2 linked regions of the Homo sapiens genome follow. The protein of the gene in region 2 purifies or fractionates together with the protein of the main gene of each other region. This does not show direct contact. Each region holds a gene or a part of one and is shown on either strand. Other genes may lie near its edges.

Region 1 (3,500 bases), on a different chromosome or scaffold from region 2:
ATTTAGTGCTCCCATTCATAGCTTATGGGCTTGGCTGAGCTACTCACCACTTGTTCCACAAAGTCCCAGTTAACTAATGTATCAGGATCAGCAAAATGAGCTGTGTAGTCTTGGTCTTCAGACACCACAAATTGGCAGCTAGAAATAGGAAAGACAGGAAAAAGCTAGACTGTCAGGATCTACCAATAAACCCTCAGCAGAAATTGTCATCTATTCACTTAGAAATCAAATGCAGGCCATTAGCAGCCCTGGTTCATGAGGCACTGCACTAGGACCTCAGCCTCAGTTCTGAGCTCCAGCTCTGGAAAGAACCCAAAGACTCAGCAGGCAGAAGTCTAAATCCATGAACTGTTTTCTTCTGCTTCAAGTCCAGCCAAATTCCCCAAAGGCATCCCTTGAACTAAAATTAACCTAGACCGTGACTCCATCAAACAGCAGTAAGCCAGATTTCCTCTCTCACCCCTTAGAACCCCAGAAAATGGCTAGTCTTCAAGGCAGTTGAAAAGACTGTTCTCGGCCAGGCACAGTGGCTCACACTTGTAATCCCAGCACTTGGGGAGGCCAAGGTGGGTGGATCACTTGAGGTCAGGAGTTAGAGACCAGCCTGGCCAACAGGGTGAAACCCCATCTCTACTAAAAATAGAAAAATTAGGCCAGGCATGGTGGCTCACACCTGTAATCCCAGCACTTTGGGAGGCCGAGGCAGGTGAATCACGAGGTCAGGAGATCAAGACCATCCTGGCTAACACGGTGAAACCCCGTTCTACTAAAAATACAAAAAAAATTAGCCGGGCATGGTGACACGCGCCTGTAGTCCCAGCTACTTAGGAGGCTAAGGCAGGAGAATCACTTGAACCTGAGAGGCAGAAGCTGCAGGGAGCCGAGATCACGCCACTACACTCCAGCCTGGGCGACAGAGGGAGACTCTGTCACCAAAAAAAAAAAAAAAACAGAAGACTGTCATTAGTATTTGAAACCAGTTCATCAGTTCATATAAAGTACAAAACGGTTACTTCAGTCTAGATCCAAAGTCAAATCTTCAATTATGACTAGGGCCACACAAAAGGAAACAAAAGGGGATCATATTTGAGCAAATGTATGCCAAGCACTTCAACTTGTCATTCAATTGTCTCTTAAGAAATTTTCTCTTCCTGGTTGGGTGCCGTGGCTCACGCCTGTAATCCCAGCACTTTGGGAGGCCGAGGCGGGTGGATCATGAAGTCAGGAGATCAAGACCATCCTGGCTAATACGGTGCAACACCATCTCTACTAAAAATACAAAAACAAAATTAGCCAGGGGGTGGGCGCCTGTAGTCCCAGCTACTCGGGAGGCTGAGGCAGGAGAATGGCATGAAGCTCCGGGAGGTGGAGCTTGCAGCGAGCTGAGATCGTGCCACTGCACTCCAGCCTGGGTGACAGAGCAAGACTTTGTCTCAAAAAAAAAAAAAAAAAAAGAATTCCTCTTCCTGGCTGGGCATGGTGGCTCATGCTTGTAATCCCAGCACTTTGGGAGGCCGAGGCAGGTGGATCACGAGGTCAGGAGTTTGAGACCAGCCTGGCCAATATGGTGAAACCCCGTCTCTATCAAAAATAAAAATAAAAAAATTAGACGGGGGTGGTGGTATGCACCTGTAGTCCCAGCTATTCGGGAGGCTGAGGCAAAAAAATCACTTAAACCCGGGAGGCAGAGGTTGCAGTGAGCCGAGATCACGCCACCGCACTCTAGCCTGGGTGGCAGAGCGAGACTACATCTCAAAAAAAAAAAAAAAAAAAAAAAAAAAAAAAAAAAAAAAAAAAAAAAAAAAAAAAAAAAAAAACCTTTCCTCTTCCTTATAAAGGAGAGGCTAAATCTCAAAGCTGTTAAGTTACTTAAGGTCAAAGGCCGAAACAAGATTCAAATCTAGGTCCAATTCCAAACATGTTTTCTACCTTATCATGATACTAAGTTATTTAAGCATTATATTAAGTACCAAAAACATCCACCTGGAAAGTGGGTAAAAGAAAGGAAGGGCGGGGCAGTGGTGAACAGAAAAAGAACGAGACCAATTCCCTTTCTGCTTCTTTCCCACAATAGCTTAAAAAAAGCCTCTCACAGAGGCACCACAGCTATCCGGAGAGTCCTACTTTCCCTTTCCTCTGAGGGGTAGCAATACTCACTTGGCCTGTAAAAAGAGTTCCTTGTTAAAAGGCTTATGTCCCCACTTGTTCCTCTTTCCCCAGCTACCATGTCCACTGCCTTCAAAGTGACCCGTCTGGCCACGGGGTTCAAAAGTGAAATTCAACAAGTGGTTCAGGTTGATCTTCTTAGGACCAGAGAACTGGGCAGGGCTAAACTCTGCCCGTTGAGCCTCTGCTACCTAGAGAGAATGAGAATGAATCAGTATTTCAGATTAGGATGACACTGATTTATAGCAGAAACCCAAAAAAAACCCTCCTTTTACACAGCTTTTTTTTTTGAGACGGAGTCTTACTCTGTCATCCAGGCTGGAGTGCAATGGCACGATCTTGGCTCACTGCAACCTCTGCCTCCCAGGTTCAAGTGACTCTCCTGCCTCAGCCTCCTGAGTAGCTGGGATTACAGGCGTGTGGGATTAAACCACACCCAGCTGATTTTTGTATTTTTAGTAGAGACAGGGTTTCGCCATGTTGACCATGCTGGTCTCCAACTCTTGACCTCAGGTGATCCACTCACCTCAGCCTCCCAAAGTGCTGGGATTACAGGCATGAGCCACCTCGCCCGGCCAGGAAGAGGAATTTTTTTTTTTTTTTTTTGAGACAGAGTCTCACTCTGTCACCCAGGCTGGAGTGCAGTGGCGCGACCTCAGCTCAAAAAAAAAAAAAAGTATGTAGCATTTCCTCTTATGCAGTCTTCCTCCTAAGATGTGCCTGCTTCCCGTTCTCCCGCTGTAAGTTCCCTGAGGGCTCCCCAGCCATGTTTCCTGTACAGCCTGCAGAACTGTGAGTCAATTAAGCCACTCTTTTTCATAAATTACCCAGTCTCAGGTAGTTCTTAATAGCAATGAGAGAATGGAGTAATACAGTCTTTAAAAATAAATACAAAGCTAGGCAACGGTAATGCACACCTGCACTCTCAGCCACTCAGGAGGCTGAAGAGGGGCACTTGAGCCCAGGAATTCAAGGTTGCAGTGCACTATGATACACCTGCAAATAGCCACTGCACTCCAGCCTGGGCAACAGGGTGAGATTCTGTGTCTAAAAAATAAAATCTAAAATTTAAAAATAAAATCAGGATGGGTGACCAGGAATAGTAGCTCATGCCTGTAATCCCAGCTCTTTGGGAGGCTGAGGTAGGCGGATCACCTGAGGTCAGGAGTTCAAGACCAGCCTGGGCAATATGGTGAAACCCCATCTCTACTGAAAATAAAAAAAAAAACTAGCCGGGTGCAGTGGCAGGTGCCTGAAATACCAGCTACTCGGGAGGCTGAGGCAGGAGAATCGCTTGAACCCGAGAGGCAGAGGTTGCAGTGAGCCAAGATCAC
Region 2 (3,500 bases):
AGCCAGGAGCATGCCTACCTCGCTTCATCTGAGGAACCGCAGAAGCAGAAAGCACATTAGAAGGGTGGAGCTGCTACTGATCACTACACTTGTGATTTCTCTCTGTATGTTAGTTTTCTATCTTTTTTCTCTCTATATATTTTTTATTTTTTTGAGACAGAGCCTCGCTCTGTTGCCCAGGCTGGAGTGCAATGGGGCGATCTCAGCTCACTGCAACCTCCACTTCCTGGGTTCAAGCGATTCTCCTGCCTCAGCCTCCTGAGTAGCTGGGACTACTGGTGGCTGTGAGCCACCACACTTGGCTAATTTTTGTATTTTTGGTAGAGACAGGGTTTTGCCACATTGGCCAGGCTGGTCTTGAACTCCTGCCCTCAAGTGATCTGCCTGCCTCAGCCTCCCAAAGTGTTGGGATTACACGCATGAGCCACTGCGCGTGGCCCCTTTTTTTCTAATGCTGCCAACAGATTGCTACCTTGTTTTATTAAAGACTTAGAAAGAGTGAAGAAATCAGAAGTCAATATTCAGTTTTAAAAAGGTTCAAGTTCTTTAGGAGAAAAGCATACACTCTTCAATGCATCAGGGCTAGTTACGTGCTCATTTAAATCAGAGAGTGATATGGAAGCAGCTGGGGCAGCAGACTAGACACGATTGTTCTTGACACGTCAGCTTCCCCACGGCAGTTACACAGATATTCTTGGTAACCTCACCTCTCCACAGAAGCTGGAGAGACAGAGAAAGAGAGAGGGAAGAACTTACCACTTACTTTTACACTGCATCCAATTTCTGGTTTGCACTTTAGCTTCTACTTCTACCCAAGATATGCCCTTGTAGAGTTTTTCCCGAACAATTGATAGGCAACTTTCAGGATTTTCTTGGAGTTTGGAATCCACCTCTTTTAACTCCTGGGGAGACATCTTCTTCAGAATCACTTCTTCGACAGCCTTGATTAGTTTCCGGGTTTCAGACTTACTCCAAGCACCACGATTTCTTTCTGTAGATATAAAAAGATGGTCTTATAGTAGCTAGTCTATTTGCTTTCAAACACAATATTAAAAATGAAATGATAAATCGGGTACTTTTCAGAAAATAATGTGCATCTCAATTATATAGACATAAAACAAACACAATTATGTGCATATTAAAATGAAATTACTAACACGGTCATGGATTCTTTTTAAGAACTAAAGCCTGAAATTATTCAATAAGTCCTTTCTTAAAGCAATGTTTTATTTATTTATTTCAAAACAGTTGTTCATCCTGTTTCTGAGAACGTCTCCCGCATCAAACTGTGAGGTTCCCAAACATTTAATGGGGGAAGAAAAGCCAGCCAAATGGCTTTTATGTTATGTACATGTCTCTTGGCCAAGAGTTCATAGTGTAACAATATAAATAGCTACACTGATACCAACACAGTACTTGATGAAGGCACCTGAGAATTTCTGAAGCCAGTTATCTGTGGCGGATGCCCCAAAGTATCAACGGTTCACCCTTCTTCACTAGAGACATTCACGGTCACGCTAAGTAAGGAGCGTCACACTGGCAGCTGTTTGGCTGTGCTTTTGGTCTGGCCACAGAATGTTACATTTTCCCCTCAATAACAATTTGGATGAATATTTAAAAATCAAGAGATTTCCAAAAAAGAAAAAAAGATAGCTAGAGTTCACAAAATTAAAAAAAAAAACAATTTAAGATTTTCCTCTAGTTCTTGGAAACTTGAAGAACTGGCTGCAAGGCACTAGCTGTGTGGCCGGAGTGTGTGAGCCCCTGTGCTAAACAGAAAACCCGGTCAGGACTGTCTTCTGAAAGGAAACCTTTTAGGAAAGAGGAGACACAGACAGGAGGTCACCAACACTGGTTCTGAGAAAAGTCCCCGCCTGACGGGCACGAACTGCGTGCCTGCCTCCCTCCCAACGTGTCCCGTGCCACTGCGGGGAAGTGACCCTCCGCCCAGGCTCTCCCACCACCAGTTTATTGGGGTCCTGGTCCACTTGGCAGTTATATTTGCACGGACAGTTACTGAAGTGTGGTAAAAACCAGCCTAGTGGGTAAAGGTCACATGGCTTCACTAAACACACGAGGAAACCAAACAAATTAGTATAGAGAACAGCTTAAGAAACAAAGCTCTTGCGGAAGACAGGTCTACGGTGATTTCCGGGCATTGGATCGGTTATGGCTGAACCAGGCCTGTCAGGGCTTATTTCTTCAGCGAGGTGGGCACTGGGGGCTGCCACTTACGACTGCTGATCTGTGAGAACTTGAGGGCCACGGAGAGGCTACTTCGGGCCACCATCTCACCAATCGTCTTCCAGTCATTCCCAAGGAGAGAATGGTACATCTTTAACTTCTCAGTATCTCCTTCGCTATACCTAGGAGAAAGGGAAAATGTTTTACAAGTTTAAACGAACTATCAGATTAAAAATGGTATTCTCATCCCAGTACGCAGCAATCGTGGGGAAAGCTGAATGGGGCAGGCTGTCAGGGAACCCGGTCACAGCCCTCTTCACTTCCTGTTGGCGTCTCACTGGTGGTCATCCTATCAATCAATCACTGAAGTGGAGACCAGAGGCCTGGCTCAACTGAACAGCAGCCGGAGCAATCACTTAGCCCTTCTTCAGCTCAGAGCCTCTGTCCCTGTGGTGGAAACGGCCTTCCTCCACCCGACCTGGACAGTGCCTGCATGCTCGCCAGTGCCGTTTAAAGGGTGCGTTTTCGGGGAGCGCCTCCCTGACCCCCTTAGCCTGAAGTCCCCGTTGATTGCTCCTGGAGAACACCGTGCTTCTCTTCCATAGCACTGGTCACAACCTGCACTCACACGTGCACTGGCTCCCTTGTTCATGCCTCTTCCTCCAGACCAGCACTGCCCAACAGAAACATAATACGAGCCTCTTACGGAGTTTAAGTTTCCTAGTAGTCATAGGAAAACTCACTTTACCTAGTTTTAATCAAAGGAACTTTAAGAATATATTTCTTACATGGACATGTTGCGTGATGAAAAACAAAAACAAAAAATAATATATTTCATTGAACTCAATACATTAAAAATGCCTATCATTTCAACACGTCATCAGTATCAAAAAATATCAACGATGTATTTTACATTCGGTTCTTCATCTTGAGCCTTCAAAACCCAGCATGTGTTTTACTCTGACAGCACATCTCAATGTGGACTAACTACATTTCAAATGTTCCACAGGCCCAGGAGGCTGCTGGTCACCATACTGGAAGACACAGCTCTAGAAGGGAAGTTCCATGAGGGCAGAGATCTTGTCGGTTTCGTATACTATGTTATCCATAATGCTTGACAGACAAAAGATGGCTTTACTGTATAAACTGCATAAACATGCAACAAATGGCTTTACTGTAAATATGTAACTACTTGAGAAATGTAAAGTGCATTCATCCTACATAAAAATACATGTTGGGAGCAAGCCCCCCCCGCAAACTGGCCATAAACAGAATCTCTGCAGCACTGTAACATGTTCATGATGGCCCTAATGCTC

Evidence for each region. Proteins that work in one complex are often made in the same cells at the same time.
Region 1: the proteins of TTF1 (region 2) and RNF10 purify together in Homo sapiens (co-immunoprecipitation; one large-scale study listed by IntAct). This does not show direct contact.

Annotation. Positions count from the first base shown.
Region 1 is NC_000012.12:120,551,356-120,554,855, reverse strand, and holds part of RNF10 (E3 ubiquitin-protein ligase RNF10), read right to left. Parts: intron 2,358-3,500; coding exon 2,158-2,357; intron 139-2,157; coding exon 48-138; intron 1-47. UniProt on the Homo sapiens protein: E3 ubiquitin-protein ligase that catalyzes monoubiquitination of 40S ribosomal proteins RPS2/us5 and RPS3/us3 in response to ribosome stalling.
Region 2 is NC_000009.12:132,389,841-132,393,340, forward strand, and holds part of TTF1 (transcription termination factor 1), read right to left. Parts: intron 2,367-3,500; coding exon 2,236-2,366; intron 992-2,235; coding exon 757-991; intron 1-756. UniProt on the Homo sapiens protein: Multifunctional nucleolar protein that terminates ribosomal gene transcription, mediates replication fork arrest and regulates RNA polymerase I transcription on chromatin.